Linked DNA regions of Homo sapiens: region 1 is linked to region 2. The links come from fine-mapping of genetic effects on gene expression. Tissue or cell type: blood mononuclear cells. Region 2 holds a variant in brackets; the other region holds the start of a gene. All regions are shown on one strand. Distances are between the middles of the regions.

Region 1 (2,656 bases), 150 kb before region 2:
GACTAAGCATGGTCATAACCTAGAAAGTTATACATTATATTCTTCAAAACACACACTCGAGTACAGACAAATATACCTCCTTACTACACAATTAGTAGATACCCAATCTTCCTGCAATGCAAGGACCTCAGACTTCTACACTTTTATTATTCAGATCTCAATCAGTGGAATCCTGTGGATCAAGGGGGAATTTCCAGCACACTAGAGGCAGCTTTTCTCCATTCATGGGATGTTCTCTCAGGCTTCAGGAGGGTTTCTTTCCCTCCTCATTCAGCCCACTACTATGATTTTCACTTTTTTTCTCATGGGAGACTTTTCTTCTCTAGCAACCCAGTCTTGCAAAAACGATGCCGAATGTCTGGTAAATTTGTTCTGAGATACCTTTAAAGATCTGGGCTGGGGAAAACAGCATTCACTTTGCAAGCTTCTTGGGATTTTTACTTAACTAGAGTCTCTTCTTCCCAGGATTTAAAACATGATGGAAACTTTAGCTCATGAATCAAAACAACCCTCCAGAGCTAAAAGCCAGCTGTATTTGCATAACAATTTAGCAGATCCAAACAGCAGGGCAAGGTCGGGTGAAATAAGTTGCCAAGGTCATGGTCATGAAGTAGTATTAGACTCAGAAAGGCTGATCCCCAGTGCTTGCTCCACCCCATGGATCTCTCCTACCCTCCTTCTAAACGATACTGTGGGATAAAATAAAATTAATCTACTGTATATGTGCAAACCACAGGCCTGCCCTTAACTCTTTCCTTACCTTCTAGTTTCAGATTATTCAAATCATGGAGGAAAAGATTAGATCACAACACGTTGACTTCACTGTATTACCATACAAATGAAATAACTTAGTACAAACTGTGATCTGGGGACTCTTGATCTAAACTGGGAACTGCTGTTGACTGCATTTTAAACTCTAAAAGTATTTTGAAACTCTTTAATTTCTTGAACTGAAAAAATTGCTTTGAATTCACTTTGTTTTAATTCTGAGAACCTAAAAACAGGGATTCTTTAAAAAAAAAATGCAAAGGCTCACATGCCAGAAAGAAAGAAGCTGAGGAGATAAAAATGTGTAAATAATTCTTACTTTAATACCCTTAGCTAGAAAAACCTTAAAAGCGACACATCCAGAAGCTCGTTAAGTCACAGCCTCTTTGAACCTATTTCAGTGAACCACCGAATTTCAGATCCCTCAGGTGCGACTCTGAATTCAGAATTCTCACCGGCTCATAGTCCTATTTTCCTTCTTAGGTTTTAGGGAATTTTGCAAACTATGACGCCCAGCCTTTGAGGGGAGAGGACTTTCCAGGGGCGCGGGATGTGCCACTCGGGAATCTCACCAACAGTGGGCGTTTAGCGCAGCCAAGCGACAGGCAGGCGCCAGGGCTCAGCAACAGGGAGGCGCCGGCTGAGGCGGGGAGAACTTTGGCGCTCGGAGCAGAGCCACCCTTTGCTGGCCAGTCGCGTTGCTCCTCCGAGGAAGCAAGCGGCGGTGGCGACTCGGTGGAAAAATAACGAAAGAAAGGCAGAGAGGAAGTAGCGAGAGAAGAGAGAAAATGAAGTCGGCGCTGGGGGAGCCTGCAGGAGGGTGGCCAACAGTGGAGGAAGGTGGATTTGGCTTCTTTTCCGCACCCCGGGCGTGAAAGCCCTCTCCAACGCGACCCCAGGAAATAAGTGGGTCTCGCCTGGGCAGAAAAGGAAAAGAATCCAGGCGAGAGCGCGTCGCTCCTCTGTCACTGCTGCCCCCGAGGAACTCCGGCTGCTTCTCATCCCGGCCGCCTCGCGGGGCCGGACGCAGTGCCCGAGGCGCCCTGCAGATGGGGCGGGCAGGGAACGGGCGCTCCAGCTGCGGGTGACAGGCGCCGGCCCGCCCGCCTGCCTGCTCAGCGCAGTGACCGGGCGGGCAGAGGATGCCAGGCGGAGGGACCTGGGAGCGGGATCTGAGACTGCCGGAGGCGCGCTACGCTCCAACTTGCATGGCCTAGAGACCGCTCCAGCTCCTGGGACCGCTTCACCGAGTGGAGTGAAGCTGCGCGCGGGACCTGGAGGCGGAGACCTCAGGCAGCGGCTGCAGAGGGGCGAGCCGGGCGCAGGAGGGGGCGCGCTTTCTCCCTGCGGGTCTCAGTAATGAGGAGACTGAGTTTGTGGTGGCTGCTGAGCAGGGTCTGTCTGCTGTTGCCGCCGCCCTGCGCACTGGTGCTGGCCGGGGTGCCCAGCTCCTCCTCGCACCCGCAGCCCTGCCAGATCCTCAAGCGCATCGGGCACGCGGTGAGGGTGGGCGCGGTGCACTTGCAGCCCTGGACCACCGCCCCCCGCGCGGCCAGCCGCGCTCCGGACGACAGCCGAGCAGGAGCCCAGAGGGATGAGCCGGAGCCAGGGACTAGGCGGTCCCCGGCGCCCTCGCCGGGCGCACGCTGGTTGGGGAGCACCCTGCATGGCCGGGGGCCGCCGGGCTCCCGTAAGCCCGGGGAGGGCGCCAGGGCGGAGGCCCTGTGGCCACGGGACGCCCTCCTATTTGCCGTGGACAACCTGAACCGCGTGGAAGGGCTGCTACCCTACAACCTGTCTTTGGAAGTAGTGATGGCCATCGAGGCAGGCCTGGGCGATCTGCCACTTTTGCCCTTCTCCTCCCCTAGTTCGCCATGGAGCAGTGACC
Region 2 (2,500 bases):
TTATTCCCAAATCGGAATGCTTTGTTTTTCCTGTCAGTTAATTGCCAGTTGCCAACAAATCTAGTTCTATACAGTTTCTTGGGATGATGATAATAAACATTTATTGAGCAATTGTCCCATAACTTTTGATATAACCTTTGTTATACATATCATTTAATCATCATAACAACACTGTGAGTCTGGTGCCATTATTTCAGCATTACAGATGATGCCATGTAGAGATCTAGCATCTTCTCCAAAGTCGCCCAGCTGGTAAGTGGCAAAGCATGGATTTGAACCAGGCTTTCTGACCCCAAATCCTGAGCTTTATTTCTACCTCTCTGCATTTATCTTATTTTTATAGCTCCTATATCTACCTGTTACAAATTATTTATTATAGTCTTAACCATGTCATCAAATCAAGCCTCAGTTTTCATAAATGATGAAACTGAAGCCCAAAGAGGTAAATTGCTTGTCAAAGAACAAGCAGCCTCCACCTCTTTGGTTCTATGCATTGCAATGAAACAGATATGTTAGACGAGACAGTTTTAAGCCATGTTCCACCTTTGGCTCATCTTGAGAAACAGGTGACAATATTTAGATTAAACCGATAACGCAAACCAATATGCTCTGAGGCTATAGAGATCAGTCACAATATGTTGTTATGAATCCTATGTTAATTGGATTATGTCTGCTCTGTACCATATGTTGCAATCCCCAGACCACTAGACACTCTTTTTGAAACAGAGAAAAAAATATGGCCTCAGCAAATTCAATTTAGCTTTGGTGTATATTCTCTCATGCTTTAGAAACATTCTCAAGGAAAAAATATCTTCCAGACATTTTTGTTAATTACAAATTCCTAAGCCACTGTCTGAGGAACAGTATGAATTTTTTAAATGAAGACAATTTTTTATTTAAAAAAAGTATAAATTCCATTCTCTACTTATAGTACTGACTCTTTCTTTCTGTTAAGAGATAGAGTAGGTAGTTAGTCTGCTATGGTGTTATATCTATTTTGAATACTTTGAACAGGAGGAGGCTCGGATGTTTTTAAAAAGAGTGTTGGCCGGGCGCGGTGGCTCATGCCTGTAATCCCCGCACTTTGGGAGGCCGAGGCGGGCAGATCACGAGGTCAGGAGATCGAGACCATCCTGGCCAACATGGTGAAACCCCATCTCTACTAAAAATACAAAAATTAGCTGGGCGTGGTGGCACGTGCCTGTAATCCCAGCTACTCGGAAGGCTGAGGCAGGAGAATTGCTTGAACCAGGGAGACAGAGGTTGCAGTGAGCTGAGATCACACCACTGCACTCCAGCCTGGGTGACAGAGCGAGATTCCATCTCAAAAAAATAAATAAATAAATAAATAAATAAATAAATAAATAAATAAATAAATAGAGTGTCATTATGGTAGAGGAACAAGGCCACCAGACTGAGAATCAGACCGGACT[T/C]CTCTGCTGCCGTGTCAACTACCGTACCTACCCCAGTAGCCAATGACTGTGAACTATAAATCATGAATCATCAGGAATTAGCTGATTCATAATGAAAAATTCTAACACTGAAGGGTCACCGTAGTAGCAGTAAAGCTGTGTAGATCAGAAGACAGTCTGACTACTCACAGGCTAACTCTGACCTACAAATGTTTGCTTTCGTTGTTACTGGTTTTACATGGTGTTTGTTCTCACAATGTTTTTTAAAAATTACCAATATTTTAAATAAAACCTTTAAAGATTTTAAATAAAAACCTAAATTACTACAAAGAAATGCAGGTCACTCTAATATGGAGGTAGCTTTTTATTGACTAAGGAGTCTCTGAAATATTGAGATGAAATTAAGAGTTTCAGTGAAGAAAAATTAACATAGTTACACTCTTTGGCACAGAAGTTCAAAATGGACTGAAGGGTTCACTATTTTTTAAAGATATAACACTGGACACAAAATATTTATCCCCATAATCAATATGTTCTAATGCCTGAAACAGTAGAAAAATGTACAATAATCAAAATAAGTATAGCTGTGTAAAACTTCAAACTTTTATATAATAAAATATAACAAAACAAAGAAAACATAAAAAGGGAGAAACATAACATGTTAGCAAAAGGGTTAGCAGTTTTTCAAAAAAAAGCTTCATTGTGTCTGATATGCATAAATAAATATGCAAAAAAGTCATTATATGATTCATTCAAAAGGAGATAGGTAAAACAAACATGGAAAAATAGGCTTGCTAATTCAATAAATACAAATTACAATATTTAAAACAGGAAAAATGAATAATTATAAAACAGTTGGCAAAAATAGAAGCCTTCTAGGCATTGCAGTATCTTTGGTGGCATTGGGAATGGCTTTCACCCTTTTTATGGGTCATTTTACACATCACAAGTCATCAGAACAGTTGTATCCTTTGACCAGGTAATCTCACTCATTGCAATGTATATCTCAAAGAAATAAAAATATTTTAAAATGCTATACATGGCCAGGTGCAGAGGCTCACGTCTTTAATCCCAGCACTTTGGGAGGC

The links. PIP is the estimated chance that this variant, and not a neighbour inherited with it, causes the effect.
Region 1: GRIN3A starts here. The variant in region 2 is the best candidate, but not a certain one, in a credible set for the expression of GRIN3A in blood mononuclear cells (TOPMed, PIP 0.68).

What each region holds. Positions count from the first base shown.
Region 1 is chr9:101,737,451-101,740,106 of GRCh38, reverse strand. It overlaps GRIN3A (glutamate ionotropic receptor NMDA type subunit 3A), which reads left to right and starts at 1,460. Exons shown (of 9, transcript NM_133445.3): 1 at 1,460-2,656. The coding sequence starts at 2,128. RefSeq lists enhancers at 1,103-1,626, 1,627-2,151.
Region 2 is chr9:101,589,226-101,591,725 of GRCh38, reverse strand. The region is part of intron 6 of GRIN3A (glutamate ionotropic receptor NMDA type subunit 3A); the gene reads left to right. PPP3R2 (protein phosphatase 3 regulatory subunit B, beta) reads left to right here. Exons shown (of 1, transcript NM_147180.4): 1 at 1-122. Among named protein-coding and RNA genes, the nearest start is that of PPP3R2, 4.5 kb to the left of the region's middle. The variant T/C (reference allele first, on the strand shown) is at 1,434.